Linked DNA regions of Homo sapiens. The protein of the gene in region 1 interacts with the protein of each later gene in a biochemical or structural test. Each region holds a gene or a part of one and is shown in the gene's direction. Other genes may lie near its edges.

The links.
Region 2: the proteins of NSMCE4A (region 1) and PJA1 form a complex in vitro, tested with the Homo sapiens proteins (one study listed by BioGRID).

What each region holds. Positions count from the first base shown.
Region 1 is NC_000010.11:121,962,050-121,973,914, reverse strand, and holds part of NSMCE4A (non-structural maintenance of chromosomes element 4 homolog A), read left to right. Parts: intron 1-85; exon of another isoform or gene 86-392; intron 393-2,845; coding exon 2,846-2,976; intron 2,977-6,108; coding exon 6,109-6,260; intron 6,261-8,529; coding exon 8,530-8,629; intron 8,630-10,586; coding exon 10,587-10,677; intron 10,678-11,807; coding exon of another isoform or gene 11,808-11,865. UniProt on the Homo sapiens protein: Component of the SMC5-SMC6 complex, a complex involved in DNA double-strand breaks by homologous recombination. The complex may promote sister chromatid homologous recombination by recruiting the SMC1-SMC3 cohesin complex to double-strand breaks.
Region 2 is NC_000023.11:69,162,412-69,174,701, reverse strand, and holds the start of PJA1 (E3 ubiquitin-protein ligase Praja-1), read left to right. Parts: upstream 1-9,248; 5' UTR 9,249-9,330; intron 9,331-11,235; exon of another isoform or gene 11,236-11,463; coding exon of another isoform or gene 11,464-11,628; coding exon 11,629-12,290. UniProt on the Homo sapiens protein: Has E2-dependent E3 ubiquitin-protein ligase activity. Ubiquitinates MAGED1 antigen leading to its subsequent degradation by proteasome. May be involved in protein sorting.

The sequences.
Region 1 (11,865 bases):
CCACATTTGTAATAGTGCTTTCCCAGTTCGGGAACCGTTTCATTATAGCAATAATGCCATTTTTATTATGCACTTACCATATAATAAGGGCTTTACATGAAAATTTGGGGGTAGGTTCCGCAGTCTGTGTTAAGCCCCCAGTTGATTCTGTTGCCTCTTCAAGTTTGAGAACGTTACATGTGTTATCTTGTTTCTTTTTCTTGTGTTTACTGCCGTATCCCTAGTATACATTGGTTGAGTGGATGAATTACAGAACTGAGCTAGCCTCTGAAATCCTGTTTCTTTTCCTGTCCCATTCTGTTTTGCCTTCCTCAGCTCCCTGCTATTGGTCCACGTGTAACACAATGGAGGTGGCAAAGCCTGCAAGTGTACCTGCTGGTCTCCAGTCTGGGGTGTGTTGTGTGTGAGTGAGTGAGTGAGAGAGATCCCAGAGCACTGAACTCTAGGCCATGGGTGCTTTAAAAAATAACCTTAGTTTGAATTGAAAGCAGAGGCAGTGGTATTGGTAGCAGCTGTCTGTCTGCTTGGTGACAGAGGGGTACTCCCTGATGTGGGTACTTGGTCATAGAGCCACAGGACTACTACCCAGACCACTGTCCCCTCCAGCCCTCTCTGACGGGTCTGTGGGAACATAGGGGAGAATGCAGCCAAATATATCCTTTTTTTTTTTTTTTTTGAGGTTTGAGATGGAGTCTCTGTTGCCCAGGCTGGAGTGCAGTAGCACAATCTCGGCTCACTGCAACCTCCACCTCCCAGGTTCAAGCAATTCTCCTACCTCAGCGTCCCGAGTAGCTGGGATTACAGGTGTGCTCCATCACACCCAGCTAATTTTTGTATTTTTAGTAGAGACGGGTTTCGCCATGTTGGCCAGGCTGGTCTCGAACTCCTGACCTCAGGTAATCCACCTGCCTCCGCCTCCCACAGTGCTGGGATTACAGGCATGAGCCACCGCCCCCGGCTGGTTCCTCATATTCTTAAAGGACTAGAACGTATATTTTTAGTCATTGCTGAGGATGACTAGTTCTTTAAATGTCTCCTTTTATCACTTTATATATGCTCTCCAATTTCTTTGACCACAGCCTCCTTACCATTCCCCATCTTAGTCTACCGCATTTGCTAACTCTCATCAAAACCTTCAGGAACCGGGTGTTTCTCCTTCACCTGGTTAAATCCCTCTACTACCCTCTTAAGTTTTGTCTTCCCTTCGCAGCCTGGACTCCCAGTCTCCTTACTGTTAGTCTTGCTTGACTTGACTCAATTACTCCCTTGATATTTACTGTGCATCTAGTCAGTTCTTTATCCCCACATCATTCCCCCCTCAGCTATTTCCAGTATTTAAAGCAATATTTTAGAGCAAAATTATTCACTCATTGGAGCCCTAGGAGTTGCTCAGCAAACAACAGATGCTGGCATTCATGGATTTGATGGTCTCAGTTTGTAAAATAAATAAATAAATGAAAGGGGAAGGGAGTGGGGCAGGCAGGCACAGGATACTCATGGGAGATAAAGAAGGGATCAACAAAAGGAAACAGCGGGGCTGAGGGGGTTGCTTAATCAGACCCTGCAGGCAACAGAGAGTATGAAAAATAGTCTGGGAACACCTACACCTGTCGCCCAGGCTGGAGTGCAGTGGCATGATCTTGGCTCACTGCAACCTCTGCCCCCCCCAGGTTAAAGCTATTCTCCAGCTTCAGCCACCCGAGTAGCTGGGATTACAGGTGTGCACCACCATGCCCAGCTAATTTTTGATTCTTTAGTAGAGATGGGGTTTCACCACGTTGCCCAGGCTGGTCTCAAACTTTGGAGCTCAAAGTGATCCGCCTGCCTCGGCTTCCCAAAGTGTAGGGATTACAGGCATGAGCTGCTGTGCCCAGCCTGTTTCTGCATTAATTTAAATCTTTTTTTTCCATAGCTTTTCTTAAATCCCATGTCCTCTGTCAAGCCTTTTTTGAGTATCCGTCCTCGGGTCACTACCTGCTACCTGTAGACTGTTCATTTGGGTGGCTTTGCTGGGGTTGCCTGTGAAGCCATACAGAGGCATGAGCCTCCTAGTGCCAGCCTAGCACATGCCATGATTTTGGTTAGCAACTTTAGCAACTTACCTATTGCTTAGCAGCTTACCTATTGCTGTTCACAAACCACCATGCCAAGCACAGGGCCCTACATGTAGTGGGAATTTGATTTTCCTTACGTCAGCACACATGATCATCGTGATTAGGATGGAGGGAAAAGTGAGTATTAGACATGACGGGTTTTGCTCAACTGGAGTTATTTAAGAGATTGTGATTCAGCTAACAGTAGGAGAACTAGACAGAAAGCTGGCTTTTAGGAAGACTGGTCAGCTTTCATTAGAGATTTTGGTGAGTTGGGCACAGGAGAAAGTTTTTTTTTGTTTTTGTTTTTGTTTTGAGACAGCCTCTTGCTCTGACACCCAGGCTGGAGTGCAGTGGCGCGATCTTGGCTTACTGCAAGCTCTGCCTCCCGGGTTCACGCCATTCTGCCTCAGCCTCCCAAGTAGCTGGGACTACAGGCGCCCGCCACCACGCCCTGCTAATTTTTTGTATTTTTAGTAGAGCTGGGGTTTCACCGTGTTAGCCAGGATGGTCTCGATCTCCTGACCTCGTGATCCGCCCGCCTTGGCCTCCCAAAGTGCTGGGATTACAGGCTTGAGCCACCGCACCTGGCCAGGAGCACGTTTTAGAAGGAGATGTGTCAGTTGCCTATTGAGATTTTTTTTTTTTTTTAGTCCAGTGGGAAATCCTGGTAAGTAGTTGGAAATGTAGGGAAAAAGTCTATGGATAATGTGTATTTTGTAATGTGAATATTTTCTTTCTTTTTTGAATAGTGTCCCGAGCAAGAGAAGCAGTCCTGGATGCCCACTTTCTTGTTTTGGCTTCAGATTTGGGCAAAGAGAAAGCAAAGCAGCTGCGCTCAGACCTGAGCTCCTTTGACATGTTAAGATATGTTGAAACTCTAGTAAGTTCAAAGCTACAGACTCTGAATAAAAAATGTTCTGTTATATATTATAATTATTTACTGTGCTCATATCCATATGCAGATGATTTCACTTCATTCTTCTTTTTTGGTCTCAGATTCCTCTGTAGAGATCTTACCAATTTAAACAGACGAAAGTAGAACCATGTGGTGGAATCTTGGGTGGGGGCTTGGAGTAAAAATCTCGTAGCATTCTGTCTTAAGATGCTGGGTGCTATGGTCATTTGCCAATGGCCATTTTTCCTCTGTTCACTGGTGTTCTAGATCATTCTCAGTGACCTCAGACCTTTGTCCTGGGCTGGACAAAAGCCCACTCTGCGATGGCAGAGCTCAGCTGGAATTGAGTTAGGCCTGGCGAGAGGGCATGTTTTGGTCTGTCTTTGAGAATATTTCAAAACCATGTGAATATGATTGGGTTTTGCTTTTTTTTTTTTTTTTTTTTTTCCTTTGAGACAGAGTCTCGCTCTGTCGCCCAGGCTGGAGTGCAGTGGCGTGATCTCGGCTCACTGCAAGCTCTGCCTCCTGGGTTCACGCCATTCTCCTGTCTCAGCCTCCCAAGTAGCTGGGACTACAGGCGCCTGCCACCACGCCCGGCTAATTTTTTGTATTTTTAGTAGAGACGGGGTTTCATCATGTTAGCCAGGATGGTCTGGATCTCCTGATCTCGTGATCTGCCCGCCTTGGCTTCCCAAAGTGCTGGGATTACAGCCGTGAGCCACCTAGCCCAGCCAGGTTTTGCTTTTTTGGTTTTATGTTTTATTCACCTTTCTTTGTCTCTTGACAAGTTTGAATAGTGGTTACCTGCAATTCTAAAACTGTTCCTTGATGAATTTACCAAAAAAGAAAAAGCACACAGAGACTGACCTTGTATCTCACTTTGTTGTCTTTTTAAAAAATTCTATTCTGGCTGGGGGCAGTGGCTCACGCCTGTAATCCCAGCACTTTGGGAGGCTGAGGCGGGTGGATCACCTGAGGTCAGAAGTTTCAGACCAGCCTGGCCACCATGGTGAAAGCCCGTCTCTACTAAAAATAGAAAAATTAGCTGGGTGTGGTGGCAGGCGCCTGTAATCCCAGCTACTCGGGAGGCTAAGGCAGGATAATCCCTTGAACCCAGGAGGCAGAAGTTGCAGTGAGCCGAGATCGCGCCACTGCACTCCAGCCTGGGCTACAGAGTGAGACTGCACCTCAAAATCAATCAATCAATCAGTCAATCTGTCAATCTGAGCCAACCTCTGTCCTAGCACAGATAGCTGCACCTCAGTATGAATATTGCATTTCTAACTGGATGTTTATGTTAAATGGTTATTAAAATAATTTAGTACTATGAGATCTGATCAGATAATTTTTTTGTAAAGGCATGAGGCACCAGATTATTTCCAGTTTGTTTTTCAAACCTTTTCCTTTTTTTTTTTTTTTTTTAACTTTTTTTTATTGTGAAACATAATGCACTTAGGAAAGTGCACTGTAATATAGAGGTCAATAAAGTAACCATGTATTGGGTATTTCTTTAAAAATTACTTTATCAGGTTAAGCTCTATTTTTTTATTTTTTGAGACAGAGTCTTGCTCTTGTTGCCCAGGCTGGAGTGTTGCCCATGCTGGAGTGTTGCCCAGGCTGGAGTGCAGTGGCACGATCTCAGCTCACCGCAACCTCCACCTCCTGGGTTCAAGCGATTCTCCTGCCTCAGCCTCCCAAGAAGCTGGCATTACAGGTGCCTGTCCCCACGCCTGGCTAATTTTTAGTAGAGGTGGGGTTTCGCCATGTTGGCCAGGCTGGCCTCGAACTCCTGACTTCGTGATCCACCCGCCTGGACTTCCCAAAGTGCTGGGATTACAGGCATGAGCCACCGTGCCCGGCCAAGCTCTGTACTTTAAATAACATATCAAAATAAATTCTGGAAGTCTTAAAGCATTAAATATAAAACCTTAAATTAATAGTTGTCCAGTCTCTGGGTGGAGAAGACTTTCGTATGTATAGCATCAAATATAGACACTATAAGGAAAGATTGGTGGATTTCTCTGTCAGTTAAACAGACCAAAACTGCCACGTCTGCCTACAAGGGTGCAGTGGTAGTTCGGGCGGCAAGGGAATGGAGAAGAGCTGGCCATAGCGCTCTGACCAGGCTCTTGTAGCCTTTCTTTTCTTTAAAGTCTGATTGCCTTTAATAGGGTTAAGCTCCCTGAGGGTTTTGTGATTATTGTTTATATATGATATTGCCATCGTAATTGGATAACTTCTAGGCATTTTACAGTATAATGTAATAAAAATGTACTTTCATAAAAGTAAATTCAATATAACACATTTTCTGTAAGACAGTTTGAGATGAGAGAATTATTTGACTTCCGCCAACTCTTCCCAGGAAGGCAATTTTAAGATGAGCCATTCTCTCAGTGATGCCGGGCCACTGCTCTCTGGATATACTGAGATACAAGCTGAATAGAGATTTGTAGGAGGTTGGCAAAAAATTAAAATCTGAAAACCAGCTGAACTTCCTTGTGCTGTCTTGAAGCTTTTGATTTGGGATTTAATTTTATATTTATATGTTAGTGCAGCTTTACTAATACACGAACTATTGGTGATACAAAAAATCCCAGGGGGCTGAGTTCTGGCATACCTAAATACTTCTGGCTGCCAGTGGGCTACAGCAGGGTTTCTCAGCACTGGCACTATGGATTGGCATTTTGAGCTGGGCATGTCTTTGTTTTGGGGGCTGTTACTGTGCATTATATGATATTCAACAGCCTCCATGGCCTCTACCCAGTATATGCCAGCAGCATATCAGTTGTGACACCCACAAATGTCTCCAGGTATTGCCAGAAGACCCCTGTGGGCACGTATACCCAGGTTGAGAACCACTGGTCTAAATCATTTCACTTTCTCACCCAAAGGTTTTAAGTACATTGAGGAATGTTTTCTGCCAAAAAGAAGGTAGCTTTGGAAGCAGGACTTTAACTGTAAAGTTATCTTCACAGTAAGAAATTTAGCCAGCATGTTAAGACACTGAAAGCTGGCTTTGCGTCTGGCCTCTTAAAGGTTGAGTGATGCGGATTATTGGATGTGGAAAATGATTGCATGTGGCTTAACTGGGTTTTTTGTTTTCCTTCATTTTTGTAGCTCACACATATGGGTGTAAATCCGCTAGAAGCTGAAGAACTCATCCGTGATGAAGATAGTCCTGATTTTGAATTCATAGTCTATGACTCCTGGAAGATAACAGGCAGAACAGCAGAAAACACCTTTAATAAAACCCATACATTCCACTTTCTGTAAGATTATTTTAAAAATCCAACAGACCAGTTATTTGTGAACCTTAAATTGCTTTTTCTTGTAGGGACAAAGATTATTTGGTATTGTAGAGGTGACAGTCATGATGCCGTTGTTTGGAGACTTTTGAAACTTTGATATGAAAGTTCATAAACACTAGGCCGGGTGTGGTGGCTCATGCCTGTAATCCCGGCACTTTGGCAGGTGGATGCAGGTAGATCATCTGAGCTCAGGAATTCAAGATCAGCCTGGGCAACATGGCGAGAACCCATCTCTACCAAAAATACAAAAAATTAGCCCGCTGTAGTGGCCCATGCCTGTGGTCCTGGCTACTTGGGAGGCTGAGGTGGGAGGATCACTTGAGCCTGGGAGGCAGAGATTGCAGTGAGCTGAGATTGCGCCATTGCACTCCGGCCTGGCTGACAGTGAGACCCTGTCTCAAAAAAGAAAAAAAAGTCCATAAACTCTAGATGTGGATGGAACCTTAAAGGATCTCTCATTCTGCTTTAGCAGAAAAGGCCAGAACCTCTTTACCAGTGCTCTCCTGGCTCCTTTGCTTCTAGCTCATGAGACTCTGGGTTTATCATCTTTAAAATCCTTATCATATAGGAGGATGATACCTCCTACTGAGGGTATCTTATGAGTCTCCCAACGTCTAAAGTGACATTTATTATAATACCCTGTTAGATGACCACTGACTTGTATTTGAAGATTACTTGTCACTGCCACATAAACTGTCCAGTTCATTTTTTAGATAGAACTCTGATTTAAAAAAAAGATTTCTTTATATTTGAATGAAGTTGGCTTCTGTCTTAACTTCCTGGCATGGTCCTATGGAGAAATTAAGAACAGCTCTTACTGGCTCTTCTCTAAGAGGACCTTCAAGTATACTGGTTTTGTTGCCCAGTAAATACTTTAGGGTAGCCATCTGAGTTGTTCAGTCCTTCTTTAAGTGGTATAGCTCCTGGGCTTTTGTCTTTTCTAATTTGTCTTTCTAAAAACCATTGAGATTGATAGTAGCTCGGGTAGAAGGCCTTGGAGATGCCAATGTAGTAGTGTGGTGTGGGGTCTGGCATCTATTTTTAATAAGACTTCAGGTAACTCAGGTGCCCAGAGCCATTTGTGTATGTTCTATTTAATAGGATGTAGTCCAAACTTCTTCATCTTAGGATAAAGTCTAAATCTTTGTTTTTTGCTATTGTACTAAACTCATAAATCCTAGGTTATAAAGATAAAGCCTTAAACTTTATCTCATCATCCAGCCCAATTTCCAGCCACAATGAAGTACTTAAAACTCTGTGTCTTTGTACTTGCTGTTCTCTTGGCCTCCAATTCCTTTTCATCTTTTCCATTCGGTAAAGTTTGTTTATCCCACAGGCCCCATCTTGGAAGCCTCCAGCAACTTCTCCAGACAGAGGTGTTAGCAGTGTAGGATCAGATTTCTCAACCACGTCACTCCCATGTCTGGGTAGATATCTCTGCCCAAGTGTTCTCATAGCACTTGAGCAGTACTCTCTAAGCGCCCAGGATCTACCATGTTGCTTTTTTAAAATTTGATTAATTTATTTTTTTATACTGCTCCTTGTGGAGCAGGAGTGTTCCCAGAGTAGCCCACCATGTTATATTGAAATGGATCTGTGTGCATAATGCAGCTGTCCATCTACATCGTATATTTTTGTCTCCTCAAGGGTAGGGACCACATGAGCCTTATTCTTGGGGCTTTGATCTCTACATGATGCAGACTTACATCTATTACTGTAACCCAAGTCTGCATGAGGGCAGAATCCAGAAGGAAAAGGAATCCCATGGCTGTGACTTGCCCTGTTATCCTAAGACAGATGTGTTCTGTAGTCCTGGGCTGGGAGCCTCTGCCTTGGCCTCCCCAGATCAAAGTCTTCTGACCCCACTGGAGCTTCCCCACATACATGTTCATCCTTCCCCTGCTCTTAGAAGTTGGCTTTGCAAAACAATAGGTTGGGTGGTGGGAAGATGTCACAGGCATATTCACTGGCCTACTTTACAGGGCAGTATGTAGGTGTCTGAGGAGGTATCTGTGGTTGAGTAAAGCTCCTAGGAGTTCTTTTAGAAATACAAAGAAGGCAGAAAGGCTGTCACAAACCTTATCAAGAGTCTTACTCTGATGTCAGCTTGTATATCACTGATGTCTGGTCTGAATTTGACTATACCATGCAAACTACTTTTAGTTAGTAAAGTTAGTTTGTTTAACAAACAACAGGCAAAAAAAATAAATGAAAGCATACTTTTCATTAGGTTGGGTTCAATATACGGAGAGTGCCCTGTGCCAAAGCCACGAGTTGATCGTCCAAGAAAAGTTCCTGTGATACAAGAGGAGAGGGCAATGCCTGCCCAGGTTTGTTTTAAAATGTTGCTTTTAAAAAAACACATTAAAGTTAAAATAGCTGTTAAAATAATGTGCATGCAATTTGGCCATTTTTTCTAAGTGTGCGGGTCTGGAGCCAGGTTTTGTCACTTAAATAATCATTTTATTTAAGCCTTTAAGCATTTTATTGGATTGGCTGCTTGTCTTTGTTTTAACTCATTTCTCTAGTTTTGATCAGTTCTCCGAAGCCAGGGTCAACCTCAGCACTGTCAACATTTACGGCTGGATAATGTTGGTTTGGGGAGCTGTCCTGCGCATTGTAGGATGCTTAGCGGCATCCCCAGCCTCTACCTGTTATATGCTAATAGCCCCCCCGACCCCTGAGTTGTGACAACCAAAAATGTCTACATGTGACAACAAATGTTCCCTGGGGAGGTGGGGGGAAAGTCACACCCACTCGAGAACCACTGTTTCTAAACCGCCCTTTTGTATTTTGCTATTTTATGTTCAACCTGAAAATGGTTAATCTGGTAATGTTACTATTCTATTAAGAAATTGATATGAAAATGTTACTGAGGCCAGGCACAGTGGCTTACGCCTGTAATCCCAGCACTTTGGGAGGCCGAGGCGGGCAGATCACAAGGTCAGGAGTTCGAGACCAGCCCGGCCAATACGGGGAAACCCCGTCTCTACTAAAAATACAGAAATTAGCTAGGTATGGTGGCAGGTGCCTGTAGTCCGGGCTATTCGGGAGGCTGACGCAGGAGAATTAGGAATCTAGGAGGCAGAGGTTGCACTGAGCCGAGATCATGCCACTGTACTCCAGCCTGGGCGACAGAGCGAGAGTCCGTCTCAAAAAAAACAAAGGTTGCCCGAGTGTGGTGGCTTACGCCTGTAATCCCAGCACTTTGGGAGGCCAAGGCGGGCAGATCCACCTGAGGTCAGGAGTTAGAAACCAGCCTGGCCAACATGGTGAAACCCTGTCTCTACTAAAAAGTACAAAAAATTAGCCAGATGTGGTGGTGGGTGCCTCTAATCCCAGCTACTCTGGAGGCTGAGGTAGGAGAATTGCTTGAACCTGGGAAGCGGAGGTTGCAGTGAGCCGAGATGGCACCACTGCACTCCAGCCTGGGCCACAGAGCAAGACTCCATCTCAAAAAAAAAAAAAAAAAGTTACTGAAACCAGAAAATCTGTTTTTTTTTAAACCATAATTTTTTTTGAGACAGAGTCTTGCCCTATCACCCGGGCTGGAGTGCAGTGGCGCGATCTCGGCTCACTGCAACCTCCGCCTGCTGGGTTCAAGCCATTCTCCTGCCTCAGCCTCCCAAGTAGCTGGGATTACAGGCAGGCACCACCATGCCCGGCTAATTTTGGTGTTTTTTAATAGAGACGGTTTCACCATAATGGCCAGGCTGGTCTCGAACTCCTGACCTTGTGATCCACCTGCCTCAGCCTCCTACAGCGCAGGGATTACAGGCGCGATGTCGGCTCACTGCAAGCTCCGCCTCCCGGGTTCATGCCATTCTCCTGCCTCAGCCTCCTGAGTAGCTGGGAGTACAGGCGCCTGTCACCACACCTGGCTAAGTTTTTGTATTTTTAGTAGAGATGGGGTTTCACCGTGTTAGCCAGGATGGTCAGCAAGACCCCATATCTAAAAAAATTTTTTTTAATTAGCCAGGTGTCTTAGACAAGGTAGAATGAATTAAAAAAAAAAAAATTAGCCAGGTGTAGTGGTGCACGCTTCTAGTGCCAGCTACTCAAGAAGCTGAGGTGGTAGGATCCCTTGAGCACAGGAGTCTGAGGTTACAGTGAGCCGAGATCATGCAACTGCACTCTAGCCTGGGTGGCAAAGCAAGACCCTGTCTCAAAAAAAAAAAAGAGTTCGGGTGTGCAAGAGAGAAGAAAAGGAGTTTGGGTGTGCAAGAGAGAAGAAAACGTTAATAGGCCAGTAAGTAGGTCTGTCAGCTTGATAATGACTTTTTTCAGTTAAGAAGAATGGAAGAATCTCATCAAGAAGCAACAGAGAAAGAAGTAGAAAGAATCTTGGGATTGTTGCAGACATATTTTCGAGAAGATCGTAAGTGTAACACCATTCAAAGTGGAGCAATTTGTATTTATCTGTTCACTGAGGTTACTTGTATTTAAAAGGCAATTTCAGCTGTATGTAATATTTGAATAAATACATATGCATTTTATGAGGATTCTTCTCCCCTTTAGAAATTTCATGTGAAAACTTTGAAGTTAACGTTTTCATTTTTATCTTTAAAAGATGGGGATTTTTTTTGTTACAAAATGAAATATGCCATTCAAGTGAGAAATGTCAAAAGTAGCTGTTCCACCTCCCCTCATTATAAAATGTAATGTGTATATTTTCAGATTATTTTATCAGTTTTATACACACCTACCTAAATAGTTTGTTTTGGCCGGGCGTGGTGGCTCACACCTGTAATCCCAGCACTTTGGGAGGCTGAGGTTGGGAGTTCGATACCCGCCTGACCAACATGGAGAAACCTCATCTCTACTAAAAATACAAAATTAACCGGGTGTGGTAGTGCATTCCTGTAATCCCAGCTACTTGGGAGGCTGAGGCAGGAGAATCGCTTGAACCCGGGAGACAGAGGTTGCGGTGAGCCAAGATCACGCCATTGCACTCTAGCCTGGGCAACAAGAGCGAAACTACATCTGAAAAAAAAAAGTTTGTTTTTTTCTTTTTTTCCAAGCTAATCATAATATGCACATTCTTCTGCTACGTGACTTTTCCATGTGGACATTCTTCCACATCATTTCATATAGATCTCCCTTGTTTTGTTCACTGATTCCCATTATATGGCTGTACTGTAAATATATTTAACAGATCCTCCATTAATGGATGATTAAGTTCCTTTTTTTTTTTTTTGAGACAGAGTCTCGCTCTGTCGCCCAGGCTGGAGTGCAGTGGCGCGATCTTGGCTCACTGCAACCTCTCCCTCCTGGGTTCACGCCATTCTCCTGCCTCAGCCTCCCAAGTAGCTGGGACTACAGGCACCCGCCACCACGCCTGGCTAATTCTTTTGTACTTTTAGTAGAACCTGGGTTTCACCGTGTTAGCCAGGATGGTCTTGATCTCCTGACCTTGTGATCCACCCACCTCGGCCTCCCAAAGTGCTGGGATTACAGGCATGAGCCACCGCGCCCGGCCAAGTTCCTATTTTTTTTTTTTTTTTTTAGGAGACAGTCTCACTCTTTCGCCCAGACTGGAATGCAGTGGCACCATCTCAACTCACTG
Region 2 (12,290 bases), on another chromosome or scaffold:
CCACCATCTATGGAATGTTAAGCTGGCACCCGAGACGGTCAAAGACTCCCATAATTCAATATCCCACACTATTTTCTGGTTGTACCAAAAAATAAACAACCAACAAACGATTTCAACTCTTAAAAAAAAAGCATTTACACTTAAAAATGGGATAAGGTGTGATTCCCTCCTTCTTAAAAATGTTTCTAGAGCTACTAAAAAACTTGCATTTACAAAATAGTTGATAAAAATGTTCCTCTGGATTGTACAAGAAGGGAGACAGGGACCACTGATAAGACATTGTATATGGTGCTAATCAGTCTTGGCTCCTGCTTCATCAGAGGCTGGACTCTCCTCAGTTTTCCTTTCCCTGTTTTCTGCAGGTAAATCTTCTTTAGTTTGTTGGTTAGCCACTTTGGCCTGTCTTCCCTTTGCTCCCCTTTTCCGTTTTGTTTGCACTTTTTTGTCTGAAGATTTGTCCTTTGCAAAGCCTTTTTCGGCTTTGCTTCCACTTTTGCAGGAGGTTTAGCTGACAATCGCGCAGATCTCCTCTTGGGCTCTTCCTTGGCGGCCCCTTCAGCGGAGCAGACCTTCCTCTTGGGAATCCTGGCGGCGGGGAGGGCGCGTGCCGGGTGCCTGTGGGCCGCGGCGCGCGGAGAGCCTTCGCGAAGCTAGGCTGGCTGGCTGCTACCACTCCTCCGGCCACCCAAGCTCAGAAAAGACTATAGTTTTAGTAAAGCATGCACGTAGGATTTCTTTTATGACTGTGTCTAAAATTACATAAATATTTGTGTGTAATTATAAAGATATTACCTTAAAAATATTTTTAAAAGATGAGTAAAAATATACCAGAAAAAAATCTTATCAAAAGAAAACTGGAGGCCGGCCTGGTTGCTCACTCCTGTAATTCCAGCACTTTGGGAGGCCCAGGCAGGCAGATCACTTGAGGTCAGGAGTTCAAGACCAGCCTGGCCAACATGGCAAAACCGTGTCTCTACTAAAAATACAAAAATTAGCCTGGCATGGTGGCATGAGCCTGTATTCCCAGCTACTTGAGAGGCTGAGGCAGGAGAATCGCCTGAACCCAGGAGGCGGAGGTTGCAGTGAGTCGAGATCATGCTGCTGCACTCCTGCCTGGGCGACAGAGCGAGACTCCATCTCAAAACAAACAAACAAACAAACAAACAAACAAACAAACTGGAAAGTAGAATTGCTGACAGGATTGACCTTTATACCAAAAGTCTTATTAGAGATACGTCATTACGTCATTTATTAGTGATCAAATAATTCTCTGAGAAGATAGAACAATCTTGAACCTACAATGCCCTCTATGTGCTTTTAAAACATATATAAATACTATGGTAATATACATACCCTCTTACAACTCACTTTTTGCATTCAATATTGATTTCTAGATTTATCCCTTCTGATACAACTAGCATTAGATTCTGCATCTTAGCTGTGTTACAGTAGGTCTTCCACCATCACAACTATTCATTTCCCTCTTGATAAACGTTTAGGTTCGTTCTAGTTTTTTGCTATTAAAAACAATACTGTGATGTAAGGAATATAACAGCACATATTTCACTTCAATCATGTGCAAGTATATCTGTAAGCAAATTCCTAGAAGTAGAATTTCTGGGCCAAAAAGTATGTGCATTAGTAATTTGATAGCTATTGCCAACTTGCTGACTACAGAGGCTCTAACTACCAAGTAACCTCACCCTACCACCGGCAATGTTGAAGGGTGCCTGCCTGTGGCTCCACACCTTCAACAACAGTGTTTATCAAACTGTCTCTCATTGCTCAGTCTGATGGGTGAAATCACATCCCATTTTATTTTTATCACTGAGCTTGAACGTCTTCTCAAATGTTGAAATGCCATTTGTATTTCCTTTCTAATAAAATGTATATTGGTATCCTTTGCTCATGTTAAAATTGGTTTGTTGGTCTTTTATTGATTTATAGGAGCTCTTCATGTATTTGGGAAATTAGTCCTTTATGCAATTAGCAGCAAATATTTAATTGAAATGGGGTCTTGCTATGTTGCCTAAGCTGGTCTTGAACTCCTGGCTTCAAGTTGTCAAGGCGAGCCACTGTGCCTGGCTCTGCATTTGTCTTTTACTTTACTTAGAATTGTTTATTTTTTGCTGGCCAGAATATTTTTTTTGATGTAGTTGAAACTTTTCTCTTTCTCTTTTTTTTTCTCTTCTATAGTTCATTGAACTTACAAAGGTCTTCTCCATTCTAGGATTATGAAAAAACATTCTCCCATGGTTTATTTTAAGTGCTTTTAAAATTTCATATTTACATTTAAAGAAAATTCTGACTATGAGAAGATATTTGCAACGGTACAAATACAGCTGACATCTGGTATTCAGAATATACAAAGAACTCCTAGAAATCAATAACCATAAAAACAACCCCAGTAGAAACATGGACAAAAGATATGAACAAGCATTTCAGAGAAGAGATCTATATGGTCAAAAACTGTAAAAGGATGCTTAACTTCTCTAGTAATTCAGGGAAAAGCAAAGCCAGTGTTCCATACTCATCAGATTGGCAACAATTTTAATTGGCAACAATTTTAAAGCCTATATCAAGAGTGCTGAGGATCTGGTGAAATACTCACCAAAAGCAGAGATGTGAATAAACTTCAGGTGAAAATGTGAATTGTTACAACCATTTTGGAAAACAGATTGGGAATATTTATTCAGGTTGAAATGCTCCAACCTCCTCCTGCCCCCATGATGCCTCATGATGTCCTCCTCCTGCCCCCATGCATGCTCTTGGGTAATCTCCTCCCATTGAGTGTGGGTTAGGCTTAGTAACTCACCTTTAATAAATAGAATGTGGCAAACATGTTATGATGTCACTTCTAGGAACTGCCTTGCAAGAAATGTTAAAAGAGGTTCTTCAGAGAGAAGAAAAATAATACTGGTTAGAAATATGAATCTACGTAAAGAAAGGAAGAACATTAAAACAGAAATAAGTGACAGCATAAATAAAATAAAATATTTTGTTTTTCTTGTTACTAACTGATCTAATAACAGCTTGTTCAAAAATAATAGTAACAATATGTTGGATGATTATAGTATATATACTAATGAAATGAATGACAGAAATGCTTATTACATTTCTGTAATAAGAGATTGAAGGAAGGAATTGGAAATATTATGTTATAAGGTGCCTGCCCTATTCATGAGGAGTTATAGTGTTATTTAAAAGTGAACTTGGACTAGTTGTAAATGTATATTGCAAGCTTTAGAGTAATCACTAAAAAAGTAAAAATAAAAAGTAAAATTAATATGCTAAGAGAGGAGAGAAAATTGAACATATAAAATGCTTAATTAAAATCAGAGAAACTGGGTGCAGTGGTTCGTGCCTGTAATCCCAGCACTTTGGGAGGTGAGGTGGGAGGATCGCTTGATCCCAGGAGTTCCAGACCAGCCTGGGAAATATAGGGAGGCCTCATCTCTACAAAAAAGTTAAAAAGTTAGCTGAGCATGGTGGTGTGTGCCTGTAGTCCCAGCTACTCAGGAGGCTGAGGTGGGAGGATTACTTGAGCCTGGGAGACAAGGCTGCAGTGAGCTGACATCGCACCACTGCAATCCAGTCTGAGTGACAGAGTGAGACCCTATCTCAAAAAAAAAAAAAAAAAAGGGCTGAACATCGTGGCTCACACCTGTAATCCCAGCACTTTGGGAGGCCAAGGTGGGTGGATCACCTGAGGTCAGGAGTTCAACACCAGCCTGGGCAACATGGTGAAACCCTGTCTCTACTAAAAAAATACAAAAATTACCCAGGTGTGGTGGGCGCCTGTAATCCCAGCTACTCAGGAGGCTGGAGAACCACTTGAACCTGGGAGGTGGAGTTTGCAGTGAGCTGAGATCGCACCACTGCACTCCAGCCTGGGTGACAGAGCAAGATTCCATCTCAAAAAAAAAAAAAAAAAAAAAACAGCAAGGGCATCAAATAGGGAATAGTTACAAGTATGGTAAATATTAATCCAACTATATCAATAATCACTTTAAATGTGAATGATCTAAATGCACCAATTAAAAGAGACTGTCAGAATGGATTTTAAAAACAAGATTTAACTATATGTTATCTACATGAAACCAACTTTCTAAAGACAAACTAAAAGTAAAGGGATTCAGAAATATATACCATACTAACAGTAATCAAAAGAAAGCCAGAGTAGCTATGTTAATTGCAGACACAGCAGATTTCAGAACAAAGAAAATTATTAGGGATAAATAGGGGTGTTATGTAATGAAAGAGGAGTCAGTTCTCCAAGAAGACACAACAATCTTTAATGTGTGTGTGCCTAACAACAGAGCATCAAAATACATGAGTCAAAAACTGATAGGACTTCAAGAAAAAATAGATGAATCCACAATTATAGTTGGAGACTTCAACACCACTCAATCAGTAATTGACAGATCCAGCAGGCAGAAAATCAGTAAAGATATAGTTGAACTGAATAGCACCATCAATCAACTGGATCTAATTGACATTTATAGACAACTTCATCCAACAAAAGCAGAATACACATTCTTTTCAAGCTCACATTGAACATTCACCAAGATTGACTACATCCTGGGCCATGAAACATGCCTCAACAAATTTAAAAGAATAGACATTATACAAAGTATGCTTTCAGACCACAATGAAATTGAATTAGGAATCAATAGAAGAATGGTAGCTGGAAAATCACATAATATTTGGGGATTAAACAATATACTTCTAAAGAAAACATGGGTTAGAGAAGAAGTGTCAAGATAAATTTTAAAATATTTTGAGATAAATTACCAAAATTTGTGGGATGCAGCAAAAGTGGTGCTTAGAGGGAAATTTGTAGCATTGAATGCATACATTAGAAAATAAGAAATACCTTAAATAAATCATCTAAGCTTCCATCTTAGGAAACTAGAAAATAAAACAGCAAATTCAGCCCAAAGTAAGCAGAAAAAAATGCAATAAAAATTAAAACAGGAATCAATGAAATTGAAAACAGAACAATAGTAGAGAAAAAGCAATACAATCAAAAGCTGGTTCTTTGAAAAGGTCAACAAGATTGAGAAGCTTGTAGCCAGACTGACCCAGAAAAAAAGAGAGTAAACAAAATTACTCATATCAGAAATTAGAGAGGAGCCATTGCTACTGACCTCATGGACATTAAAAGGATAATAAAAAGTATTATGAACAACTCTATGGCCACAAATTTGATTACTTAGATAAAATGAACAAATTCCATGGCTTGTTTTTAATGAATAGGATATGGCAAAAGTGATGAGATCTCACTTCTGAGATTAAGTTATAAAAAGACTGCATCTTTCCTCTTGGGATCTCTCTCTCTCTCTCTCTCTCTCTTTCTCTCTCTCCAGCTACCATGCTGTGAGGAGACTTAGGAAGCCTACGGATAGGTCCACACGACAAGGAATCAAAGTCTGACAACAGCCACATGAGTTAGCTTAGAAATGGGTCTTCTTTGGCCTGTCAACAACCATGTAAAAGAGCTTGGAAGTGGACCTCTTACCCTACTTGAGCCTTCAAATGAGACTGCAACCCTAGATGAGAGCTTGGGTGCAACCTCGTAAGAAAGTTTGAGTCAGAGGCACCTAACTAAGCCATGCCTGGATTCCAGACCCATAGAAACTGATATGATAAATGTTTGTTGTTTTTAGCTGCTATGTTTTAGGGAAATTTGTTACACAGCAATAGATACCTACTACATACTCTTTGACCAAGAAATTCTACTTCAATGTTTCCATACTAGAGCAATTTATTTCAATCCTTTTCACATCAGAACATATATTTAAAATGCTATCAGCTCACTGGAATAAACAGACAGTGTGCTCTTGGCCAGAGGCAACAGTCTCTAGGGGCAGCTGCTGAAGCCAAAGCTACCTTCCTGGAGAGCTAAGGGGATCAATATATCAGAACACTTATAACTCAGTTGGGAAGCTCTGCCCTGAAGAAACTCTTCTATGTAGGCACAAGGAGCCATGCACTAGGATGTTCATTGAATCCTCACTTATAATTGCACAAAACAGAAACAGTAGGAAAAGAGATAAATTGGATAACTTATGCAAAAGAAGTCCATACAATAATATGTTATAGTAATGTATTGGATAATTGATACAGTAATATTCAGCAGTTAAAATGCATGACTCAGATCTACAGGTATCAAAATTGCTGAGTTTCAAAAAACAACAGAGTGAAAATCTAAGTTGCAAAAGTATATATTTATAATGATACCATCTGTATAATTTAAATACATGAAACAAAATTGTGTATTGGTCACAGATATATATATGTAAATATATATTATATATCTGTATATATATGTATACATACACTTATATGCACATATACATATATACACATATATACATACATATATATACACACACATATATATATATATATATATATATATACACATACACACACACACAAACATGAACAAGACGACAGCACATCAACTTCCAAATAAGGCTTATTTTCAAGAGAGAGGTCAAGTGAATAGGATGAAGTGAGGGCTTCATCTGTACTATTTTGTTTCAAAAACAGAAGGATCTGAGGATCTGGAGAAAATAAAATTTGCTCAATCCATGTGACAGGTGCATTAAAATGTGTATTTTATACTCTACTTTTCTGTATAGTTGACATATTTAAAAATATTTTTATAAAGAAAATGTATCCTCTCTTGAGTCCAAAAATACATATACAAGCTGGGCACAGTGGCTCACGCTTGTAACTCCAGCACTTTGGGATACCGATGCAGGTGGATTGCTTGAGATCAGGAATTCGAGACCAGCCTGGTCAACATGGTGAAACCCCATTTCCACTAAAAAATACAAAAACTAGCTGGGTGTGGTGGTGCACACCTGCAGTCCCAGCAACTCAGGAGGCTGAGGCAGGAGATTGCTTGAACTCGGGAGGTGGAGGTTGCAGTGAGCCAAGATTTTACCACTGTACTCCAGCCTGGATGACAGAGCAAGACTCTGTCTCAAAAAAACAAAAATACATATACATTCGGTATATTGTACTGTCCCATTTCCTCATATCGTTATTTATTTTGCAGTCTATTTGATTTATCTATACCATAAGAAATGAGGTGAAGTTTCCCACTATAATTGCAGACTTCCTGATCTCTCTTTATATTTCTAACAGTATTTGCTTTATATATTTTGAAACTACATTGTTTGGCACATAAATTTTTGTGACTATCATATGTTTTTTTTTAAAATGCACTGTTCTGCAACATGCTTTTTTCACTTAATATATTTATATTAGACCAGTACATATATACATATATACTTGCCTTCTTTCTTTCTTTCTTTTTTTTTTTTTTTTTTTTGAGACAGGGTCTGACTATTGCCCAGGCTGGATCACAGTGGCGCAATCTTGGCTCACTGCAGCCTCAACCTCCTGGGCTCAAGTGATTCTCCCACCTCAGCCTCCCAAGTAGCTGGGACTACAGGCACGTACCATTGCGCCAGGGAAATTTTTACGTTTTTTTTGTAGAGATGGGGTTTCACCATATTGTCCAGGCTGGTCTCAACTCCTGGGCTCAAGCAATCCTCCTGCCTTGGTCTCCCAAAGTGCTGCGATTACAGGTGTCAACCACCATGTCTGTACATGAGCCACCATGCAACATGTTTAAATAAATTTAAACAATTTATTTGTTGAGGAGAATTAAAGTTGTTTGCATTATCTTGCTACACTCCTATTCACATATCTTTCTCCATTTGTGTGTCTCAATAGAACACACAATAGAGCAATTGACTAGAAGTAGAATTGCTAGATGAAAATGTATCTCCATTAAAAAATTTGATAGTTTCAGATTTCTCACCAATGAAGTTCTATTATTGTTATTATTATCATCATCATTTTGAGATGGCATCTTGCTTGGTTGTCCAGGCTGGAGTGCAGTGGCGTGATCTTCACTCACTTCAGCCTCAACCTCCTGGGCTCACACAATCCTCCTGCTTCAGCCTCCTAAGTAGTTGGGACTACAGGCACACACCACCAGCTTGTCATATCTTTCTCAGTGAATAAAGCAACCTGTTTTGTTCTCTTTAGTTCTTTTTACTTTGAGTTCTCGATGTTTAGGATATTGATATTGTTACGAGTTTGTTTCCTCCTTCCTTTCCTTCCTTTTTTTTTTTTTTGCTTCTTTCCTTCCCTCATTCCCTCTCTCCCTTTTTTCTGCTAGTATTTTACTCTCATATATTTTTTATTCCTATTTCTGCTTTAGGTGAAACTCACATAAATAGAATATAACTTAGCTTTTAAAAACAAAATGCTCAAAATAAGAGTTTGGTTTTTATTAGGAGATGTTAACCCATAATGCATGCTGATATATTTGGATTCCTGCATTTTTGTTTTCTTTTTGCATCCTTTTTTTTGTACCCCCCCAGCAACATTTCTTGACCTTTGTTAAGAATGAGTTTTTCTCTTTGTTCCACATATTATTACTTTAATGGTTTGAAAGTTATACATTTTATTTCTATTATGTTGTTACCCCTAAGATTTTTGTTCTATTATGCATTTTGTTTCCAGTAAGAACAAAACTTTGCTACTGTTGTGAACATGGGAAATGTTTACATTGGCTGTAAATACTAGAGTTCCATTATAAAGCGCAATTTAAAGACTTCAGAATTCAGTAAAATGGTATAAATCCAAAAGGCGTAACTACAATATTTTTAACTGCAATGCAATAACAGAATATGAACCTGTGTTGTGTCCTATGATCTCTTGGACAGAGAAGCTTGGTTTTGTGATTAGCAGCAACAAATTCAACATAAACAGCTTCAATTTGCTTTAACCATCAGGTTAAAAAAAATTTAAGCTTACTGCAACCCTAAATATGGTTTCACAGTTTTAATACTTTCGGTACAACCATAACACGTAACATAGGATGTGATGTAGTAACGTAATTACTCTCACATTGGACTTAATCAGAAAGAATTTGCAGATTTTATTTTATTTATTAAAAAACCAGAAGGCAATATAGCTAAATGTTTAACATTAGTTAAAGCTGGGTGTTTGTGACATTTTTCGCTGTCCTTTTCTGTATCCTTGACGATTTCATCATTTAAGATGAAATAATGCTTTCGGGCCCACCCTGATTTGTGGAGAGCAGCTGCCGCCCCCGCCACATCAAGGAGGCGGGCTCCAGCTGACTTCACAATCACTTCCGCCGCCGCAGTCGCCGCCCGCCCCGCTGCTGTCTGGCGGGGGAGGAGCTCGGGACCGGGAGCAGCGGCTCTGGCGGTCGTGGCGGTCGGAGATCCGAGAGCTCTGCTTCTCTGAAAAGCGTGTGGCTTTCTGGACTTGGTGAGTGAAAGGCTGATTGTTTCCTCGATTCATCCGGGCGCTGGCGGTGGCGCGAGTGGCCGGGCGCGGGGCGAGTGGCCGGGCACGGGGGCGAGGATTTTGGGGGGTTCCTGGGAACTGCTTTTCAGGTTCGCCCCTCGGGAAGGGGTGGGGCGGACGCGGGACCTGACTGCAGAGTGAGGCCCATGTCCTCCATCGGCCTGTTCTGGGGCCACATCTTCCGCTGCCGGAACCCCTTTGGTGTGGCGCGGTCCCCACTCGAGTGGCTTTCATCGCTATTGGGAGGGCAGTGGTGGTCGCGGCCCTCTCCCACTTCTCCCTGCCTCTCCTCCCCTCTCCTTCCTTCTTCCCTCCTCGGCCCCTTTGCGGAGCACTCCGTGGCCTTTCTTCCCATATTTTGCTGTTGTTTTGCCAAATGGTAAATGGTTAAGATTTTTAGGTAAAAATACTGTTCCCAGGGAAAAAATTGGAAGGAAAAAATAATTATTCTCAGGGAAAACTAGACCCACGCACGCCCTTTTCTTTCATTTTCCCTCTCCCCTGCCACATCGGTTGGGGTCTCCCGTTTGAGCTGATGGCCTTTTCCCACCTCTTTTTATGACATTGCGTCCCCCCTACCCCCCACCCCCCGTGTGTCGCGAGCACGCGCCCCCGCACAGAAGCCTTCCATTGCAGCCCCCTCCTTGCCCCTCCATCCTCAAGGTTCCAGTGCTTCCCCTCCCCCGCGCATGCGCAGGCACACGCAGCACACACCCTCTCACACACCCTCACACCCTCACACCCTCCCATGCCTTCCCCCTCCTCTATCCGCCTACCACATACACACCTCTAGCACCGGCCCCCTCCCTGCTCGGCCTCTGCGTGCTCTCGCGAACACATGCCTATTCACACACCCCCTCCGGCTGCCCTCCTTCTTCCTTCCTGTCATATACACACATAAGGACATCCTTCTATCGCTGGCCAGTGACATACATATGTAGCCACATGTGCTCATTCATACCCCCTTCTCAAATGCTCTCCTCTATTGCTCTGTCTGCCACGTGTGTCAGACACAGCTCTCTTTTGCTGGTCCCTGAGGTGCACACACTCGCACTCACATAAATCCTTCTACGGGGACACAACCTGCCTCCCTGCTTGCCATATCCACACAGGCAGGCATCATTCTTTGATTGCCTGCCTCTGTTCCATCCACCTCAAGCACATCCCTCTCCAGTGCTGCGCACCCCCCACCCCCGCTTCCATTTGTGCCTGCTGCATTTGCTCACACTGACATTTCTCCATTGTTGCCTCCCATTTTGACTAACATACACACACACAAACTCTCAGACACTCCTCTCCATTGCCAACCATACACTCCTCTGCCTGTGACATACGCATAAACATGGGCATCCTTCTGTAGTTTCAGCTGCCTCACATACAGCTACACACACAAACACCTTCCCTTTCCTCATACATACACGCACCCCTCTCCTCCAAAGCCACCCCACCCATGCCTGTCATTTTCATACCCACATCCAGAATGGGTCTCATTCTAACACTCATACCCTTTCCCCCTACAAACGTAAACATCCCTCTGTTGCAGGATTACTGGTCCCCTTCCACCTGTCCCTCTCCTCTTGATAGACAGACACATAGGCACTCGTGCACACACGGCGATCTGTATTTTCCACTCTATTCCAATTTGCATTTCTCCTGTATGTCTGCAGCACTCAGAAAAATGCAGACACCCCATAAAAAAAACTATAGCAGTCTTTCCTTTCCCCACGTTGCACAATTCCACAGTACTTCACCCACCTTCCAAGCGTCCAGTCACCCCCCAACCTTCCGTCAGATTCTCCTCTAAGTCTGGCTTTCCTGCAAACCCAGTCTTGTAATCATTTTGCCAACATTAAAAATGTGTTCCAGGTCTACACCTGACAGTCACTGGAATGCTACTCCAGGCCTTAGAAGAAAGTGAAACTAATTTTAAAGGCCCCTTATTCTTTCTGTTACCTGCCTGCTGAAGTGAAAATAAATCTCCCTGCTCCTTTATTCTAAACTGATTTTACTTTCCCATCTCAAAAACGTGTGCAGGGAGCAGGAGCCCTCCTACCCGAGCCCCAGCTGTATTGGAAACCCTCCTAAGTCAGAGTGATGGGTCAGGAATCTAGCAAGCCTGTATGGCCCAATCCAACAGGAGGGTATCAGTCCAATACAGGTAGGAGGTATGGAAGAAGGCATGCTTATGTCAGTTTCAGGCCACCCACGAGCCAGCGGGAAAGGATTGCCAGCCAGAGAAAGACGAACTCCGAAGTCCCAATGCACAGATCAGCCCCCAGTCAAACCACCAAGAGGAGCCGATCGCCATTTTCCACTACTCGTCGTAGTTGGGACGACAGCGAGAGTTCGGGAACCAACCTGAATATTGATAATGAGGACTATTCCAGGTATCCGCCAAGAGAGTACAGAGCTTCGGGTAGCAGAAGAGGAATGGCCTATGGACATATTGACTCTTATGGGGCAGATGATAGTGAGGAGGAGGGGGCTGGGCCTGTTGAGCGACCGCCAGTGAGAGGGAAAACTGGCAAGTTTAAAGATGATAAGCTGTATGACCCAGAGAAAGGGGCAAGGTCTTTGGCTGGGCCACCTCCACATTTCTCTAGTTTTAGCCGTGATGTGAGAGAGGAGCGAGACAAGTTAGACCCAGTCCCTGCAGCAAGATGCTCAGCTAGCAGAGCTGACTTCCTGCCACAAAGTAGTGTGGCCTCACAGTCGTCTTCTGAAGGCAAGCTGGCTACAAAAGGTGACAGCTCGGAGAGGGAGAGAAGGGAGCAAAATTTACCTGCACGTCCCAGCAGGGCTCCTGTGAGTATTTGTGGTGGTGGGGAAAACACCTCAAAGAGTGCAGAGGAACCTGTGGTCAGGCCCAAAATCAGAAACCTGGCAAGTCCAAACTGCGTGAAACCAAAAATTTTTTTTGA